Homo sapiens: one gene and its partner. The protein of the gene in region 1 interacts with the protein of each later gene in a biochemical or structural test. Each region holds a gene or a part of one and is shown in the gene's direction. Other genes may lie near its edges.

Region 1 (3,315 bases):
CTCTTTGTTCAGTAGATAGATGAAGGCTGTGCTTCACCCCCCACTGCGCTCCCCTACCAAGCAGAACCACCAGAGGCCAGGCGACACCAGCACATAGTAGGTACTTCACAAGCATGTGTAGAATGGATGGCCAGATGCCCACACATACTAAACACTCTCTACAAGTGTGTACGGAATAGGCGGTCACGGCCTGAGCGTAGCGCTCATGTTTCCCCCCTGCCCGGCTGTGGGCCCTGGAAGGGCTGGGGCTCCCTCATTTCTGAGTCCACAGTGCTGGGTGCACAGTAGGTGTCCAGGAAGAGAAACGTTTGTGGATCCCTGCCTGGGATTCAAAGTCAGCGCTCCAGATTCTGCCTCTTCTCTCTAAAGGGGCATCTCCTGGCCTCTTGATCCTCAGACTGTGGGGCGGGGAGGGGGTCGGGGGAGGTGGGGCCCAGCAGACCTCATAGGACACCCAGGCCTTCCCGCCACCAGCACATACACAGTTAACCGTGTCCCCGCTGCCTGCCCAGCCCTCATCTGGCTTGGTTTAAAGTGAAACTTCCCGGAGGACGAGGACAGGAGGGGGTGGCAGGCAGCTTGTTTTTCCTGGCTTTCTGCCCTGGCCCATCTCGCCAGCTCAGCAGAAAACAGCTTGTTCTCTGGCCCAACTCCAGCCTCTGCGCTGTTTTTGCCTTTAAAACAAGGCCTGTGAGGCAGCCAACCACAGAGCTTTTCCCTGAAAGAAAGACTTCGTTAATAATTAATGAGGTCCTGCAGCCCCTGGAGGGGCCGTGTGGAGAGACTCAGGCCGTGCACAGGGGCCCTGGGCAGACACGGCCAGCCGGAAGGGACACCTGGTTCCGTCCCCATAGCACCCTGTCCTCAGCGGCAGCTGCTGCCCTCATGCCTGGCCCTGCTATCCCTCTTCCCAGAGCCCCAGACTTCCCCCCTCCCTCCCGCCCCCCCACTGGTCCCTGCCCCAGGAAACTCCCCAGGGATGGGCCAGGCCCTGAGGACCAACCCGTGCTCCCTCCCTCCCCGGCCAGCCTTCTCTGACCATGCTGTGCCCAATGCCAGCAGAGCTATTTCTGAGGAAGGGGTGGCCCTGGTCTGGGGCCCACAGCCCTGCACAAGGTGCCGTGGGAGGCACTCATGGGGTGCTGATGCTTTATGGAAAGGGTCTTGCACCGTTACACAGCTCCCAAGTCAGGCCTGGCTCCACCTGCAGTGGGGGTGCAGCCTGACTCCCCCTCCCCCGCCTGATGCTCTTTGACTTCTTGGTTGCCCACCATGTGCCGGGCCTGTTCCCTGCGACTCACCAGTGTGCTCAGCAGCCCTTTCCCTTACAAGCCCCGCAGTCTCTTGCTGTGATGGCTGCTGCAGCCAGATGCATTACTGATACTCACACCCGCTCCCGGCTGTCATGGCCCACAGTTTTTCATTTTTTGAGAGACAGTCTGGCTGTGTCGCCCAGGCTGGAGTGCAGTGCTGCGATCGTAGCTCATTGCAGCCTCAACCTCCTGGGCTCAAGCGGTCCTCCCTGCAGGCATGCACCACCACGCCTTGCTACTGTTTTTCTCTTTTTCTTTTGTAGAGACAGGGTCTCACTGCGTTGCCCAGGCTGGTCTCGAACTCCTGGCCTCAAGCCATCCTCCCACCTCGGCCTCTCAAAGTGCTGAGATTACAAGTGTGAGCCATCATGCCCAACTGCCTGCAATTTTTAACTTCTTCACAAAGAGCTATTCAGTCTGCCCTAGCCAGCTGCTGTCTGGCCCCTGGCCCTTCATCTCCGTCCTCAGACCCAGGGATCTCCCTTCACTCTGTCCTGGCTCTGGGTTGCCACTGCCTCTGTTTCCTTCTAGCCTCCCCTCCTTCCTTCTGGAGGCTTGGCATAGGCAGATTCAGGGCTACAGACCAGCCTCAGAGGGGTTGGGGTATCAGACACAGCCCCATCCCCAGGGAGGCCTCCAGTGCCAGGGCAGAACTGCCCATGCCCCTTGCCCGGCCCTCACCAGACCTGTTCCCTGCAGGTTCGCTAAGCTCTTGCTCCGCCTGCCGGCTCTGCGCTCCATCGGGCTCAAATGCCTGGAACATCTCTTCTTCTTCAAGCTCATCGGGGACACACCCATTGACACCTTCCTTATGGAGATGCTGGAGGCGCCGCACCAAATGACTTAGGCCTGCGGGCCCATCCTTTGTGCCCACCCGTTCTGGCCACCCTGCCTGGACGCCAGCTGTTCTTCTCAGCCTGAGCCCTGTCCCTGCCCTTCTCTGCCTGGCCTGTTTGGACTTTGGGGCACAGCCTGTCACTGCTCTGCCTAAGAGATGTGTTGTCACCCTCCTTATTTCTGTTACTACTTGTCTGTGGCCCAGGGCAGTGGCTTTCCTGAGGCAGCAGCCTTCGTGGCAAGAACTAGCGTGAGCCCAGCCAGGCGCCTCCCCACCGGGCTCTCAGGACACCCTGCCACACCCCACGGGGCTTGGGCGACTACAGGGTCTTCGGGCCCCAGCCCTGGAGCTGCAGGAGTTGGGAACGGGGCTTTTGTTTCCGTTGCTGTTTATCGATGCTGGTTTTCAGAATTCCTGTGTGGCCCTCCTGTCTGGAGTGACATCTTCATCTGCTCTGAATACTGGTGCCCAGCCAGCCCGTGACAGCTTCCCCCTAATCAGGAGGGGACAGCTGGGGGCGCAAGCTGGTGTGTCATCAGCAAAGACCTCAGCCGCCTCGGGGATGAGAGGGGACTCGTGGGGCAAGCAAGCTGCCCTGTGCTCTGAGTGAGGGGGAAGGTAGCCCCTTTTTCCAAAGATAACTCACAGTTTTGCCCTCGAGCCAATGAGAACATGAGCTGCCCTCTGTGCAAGGTTTCGGGGCCACCTCCAGGCTGCAGGGGCGGGTCACTCACCCCCCTGTTTTCTCTCTGCCTTGGTGTTCTGGTTTCAGACTCCCGACTCCCCGTTCAGACCAGAGTGCCCCGGCCCCTCCCCAGCCTGAGTCTTCTCCTTGCTCTGCGGGGTGGGCTGAGGCTTGTCCTTGTTTCCTGCAGGGCTGGCCCTGGCTCGGGCAGGGTGGGGCATCACCACCTCACTGGCCTTGCTGGAGGCACAGGGCTCTGCGGACCTGCAGCCATCTGTGAGGCCCGCGGGGATGGGAGGGGAGGAGGGTGGCCTGTTGGTTTCCCTCAGAGGGGGCAGGTGGCCTGGAGAGAGAGGGGCTCAGGAACTGGGAGCCTCGTGGGTGGGGCAGATGCTCCGCGGCCTGGAGTGGCTCTGCCGGGGCATTGGTGGGACCCCTGCTCAGGCCTTCTCTCTGGCTGCCAGTTGTGTCTAAAAGAC
Region 2 (3,500 bases), on another chromosome or scaffold:
AAGAGTGAGGAGTGAGTTTTTATACTTTACTGCATTCAGTTCTGTTGTCTCTCTAATGTCTACATCTTGATCACACACTCACACCAACTGCCCAGTGCAGTCAATTAATGAAAACTCAGATGAACAATGTATATTATTATAGTGTGGTTTATTTGGTTAATAATCTTGGATTTTATTTCTTTCAGATAAGCCATGGTTTGATTTCAGAAAGTGGTACCAAATTATGAAGAAAGCTTTTGATGAGAAAAAACAAAAATGGGAAGAAGCAAGGGCCAAGTATGTTCTCCTTCCTGGTTTAGATGCACCTGCCTTACTTCTGTGTCTGTTACTTTACATTTGAAAGCTGAAGCTTCATCAGTATACACTTATCTACATTGTGACTTTTTTTTCTGGAAATATTAGCCCTACACTCTAATTAACTTTTCTCTTTTTTACATTACTATTAATCAAAGTTTAGATTTGATGTGGATTTCACCAGTGTTTTTATTAATGTCCTCTTTCTGTTCCATGATCCAATGCAGGATACCACAGTATACTTTTTATAATTTAACTTTTTATAATTTGCATGAGACTTGCCTATATTTCTAATACTCCTCCCTCTTCCCCTTTCTCAAATTTAGTCATTTCTCATCTATGCTTCCCAATATTAAAAAGATTACAAATGTTACCTTGCAACATATGTAATTGGAATGTTCCCCCAAAATAAAGATCCCTGTGAAAATTAAAACAAAGGAAAGCAGATAGCAAGTCCATTTGATTCAGCCAGTGTCACTGCCTTTCTTTGAACTGTCATTCTGATGTGGGCTCATTGTGGTAGGGTAGAAGAGAGCATAAGCAGCGCTAGGTTTGAATCCTGTCTGCATTACAAGCTAGCTGTGTGCCCATGGGCCAGTTACTTAACCTTTTGCTGAGTCTGAGTCTCTTTGAGGCTTTGAAGAAAAAGGTAACATCTCTGTATTTAATGTAAATTTACAGTAATACTAATTCGACTCAGTAATTTTATATCCTTTGAGAAAAATCAAGGTTCCCCATATTAGTTGAAATGAGAATTTGTTCAGCTCCTATTTCTTCATCAGTAAAATAGACATAATAATGCCCACTTATATACTGTAATTAAGACCCAATTTTCCAGTATGAGAGTAGAACTAGATTATTTTTCCTCTAAATTTCAGAGGGCTTTTAAATAGAAAAACAGACTCTTGGGGTAGAAAAGGCACTGTGGAGATGATCCTTTCCATAGCAGGGAAGTGTGACAGGTTCCCTCTCAGTAGGCAGGATTGATGCACAATGAAGAAGAGGGGTGGAGGTGAATTTATCCCAACAGCCCATGGATTCCCAGGAAACCAGGCTCCCTGCCTCCTCATCAGAGAAGGAGTGACTCTTCAGTCAGTGGCTCTCAGTGGGCACAAGAATAGCAGCAGGAACAAGATTTTGTTATGTGTCTTAGGTCATTTTGGAGAATCAGCCTTCCTTTCTGTGGTGCTAGCTGGGGTTAGTCCTGACGGATCCTAAGGACTGGGTGCCTAGGGGCCATTCCTCCCTGGGGTCTCAGTGGTGACAGGGCTTTCCTTACCCCAAGCCAGACACCAACCTACACTTTAAACATAGCTCTTGGAGGCCCAGTTCATTATTGCAGTGTTATGTCAGTTGCACATTTAAGACTTACCGGCTTTTAGCTACTTTAGGGAATAATTTATTGGCCAAAGAAAGTAAGTCTGGTTATAAAATGGCACTTTCCAGGGAGGTACCGGGCCCCAAGGTGGAGGCTGTCGAGGGGACCCGTTTCCAAGGTCCTTCTTCCTAGAGTATGTGCTGAGGGCTGACACACACGTGCAGTGTGAGTCACTGCTGAGTAATATGCGAAGCACTACCAACTGCTGCTCAGGCCCAGAGCTCAGTGCGTGGTGGCCACCTGTCGGTTTCACCCTTCCCCACCCCCATGTTGACATACATGTCTAATTTTTCTCTTTGTTTCTCTGAATATTATCATCCATGTTGTCAGATGAAAATTATTAAAACATTTTCTATATCTGAGCATGGGTTCCTATGCATGAGATTATGAAAAACACTAATAAACAATAGTTGAAAACCTAAAACAGCGTAAGAGGCTACTTTGATGACTTCTAGCTGTTATAGAAGATGTTGAGAAGAACATGGAGAAAAATTAAGCCTGTGCAGAAAATCTCTATGCCCTAATTGGTGTATAGTGATATCTCATTATGGTTTTAATTTGAGTTCACTGCTAATTTTTGCCTTCCCTTTTGGGTTAGGCAGAAATTTCTTAGATGTGACACCAAAAGCATGATCTATAAAAGAAAAAAAATTGGTAAATTGGACTTCATCAGAAGTAAGAACCTCTGCTCCACAAAAGAACTTAAACGAATAAGAAGCTACAGACGAGGAGAAATTAAATGCAAATCACATATCCGTTTAAAGATTTGTATCTAGAGTATATAAAGAATTTTTAGGCAATAAGAAAAAAACTCCATTTTTTTAAATGGGCAAAATATTTGAAAAGACGTTTTACCAAAGATGATATCAAGATGGCATGTGAAAAGATGTTTAACATCATTAATAGGGAAATGCAAATTAAAACGACAATGACATATCATTATATACCAATTAGAATGGTTCAAAACAAAACAAAAACAAAAACTGATCATTCCCAGTGTGGGAATTCAAAATGGTACCGCTATTTTGAAAAGTTGTCAGTTTCTCAAAGTTAAACATACATTTATTATGTTATCCAGTGTTTTTCACTCCTAGATATTTACCCTAATGAAATGAAAACAAGCTCACACAAAAATCTGCATAGGAATGTTTCTAATGGTTTCATTCATAATTGCCAAAAACTGGCAACAAACCACATGTTCTTCAACTGGTGACTAGCTAAACTGTTGTATCCGTACAGTGGAATACCATTTAGCAGTACAGACTTCTTATGCATCCAGCAATATGAGTGAATCTTAAATGCATTATGCTATGTGAAAGACTCAAAAGGTTACTTATGCTATGATTCCATTTATATGACATTCTGGAAAAGGCTAAACTATGGGGACAGAAAAACAGACCAGTAGTTGCCTGAGATCAAGGGTTGACTGTCAAGGGATGTGGGAGATATTTTGGAGTGATGGAACTGTTCTACGTAGTAATTGTGGTGAGTACACACATGCAACTGTATGTGTTTGTCAGTGCTAGCAGAACTACACTGAAAAGAGTAAATTTTACTGAATGTAAATTATACCTTAATTTTTAAAAATGAGGAAACATATGCAGACAGACAAGAGAGAAATATATAGATAACATGTAACTGGAAAACATGGTTTGTGATGTGTCTCCTTTTGTAGTTTTATGTAATGAGAAAAGGCAGGCAAGGTAAAGTCAATTTTGGAAGAAGCTTTCATTTCAGGTATCTGAACACTTAAGAGTATTTTTATTTTAGATCACCTTTCCCATTCTTGGGGCATATCACCCCAAGGGCATCATAATGCTTTCTTGAT

The links.
Region 2: the proteins of RXRA (region 1) and TAF1B form a complex in vitro, tested with the Homo sapiens proteins (one study listed by BioGRID).

The regions. Positions count from the first base shown.
Region 1 is NC_000009.12:134,434,455-134,437,769, forward strand, and holds part of RXRA (retinoic acid receptor RXR-alpha), read left to right. Parts: intron 1-2,012; coding exon 2,013-2,160; 3' UTR 2,161-3,315. UniProt on the Homo sapiens protein: Receptor for retinoic acid that acts as a transcription factor.
Region 2 is NC_000002.12:9,912,974-9,916,473, forward strand, and holds part of TAF1B (TATA box-binding protein-associated factor RNA polymerase I subunit B), read left to right. Parts: intron 1-185; coding exon 186-276; intron 277-3,500. UniProt on the Homo sapiens protein: Component of RNA polymerase I core factor complex that acts as a GTF2B/TFIIB-like factor and plays a key role in multiple steps during transcription initiation such as pre-initiation complex (PIC) assembly and postpolymerase recruitment events in polymerase I (Pol I) transcription.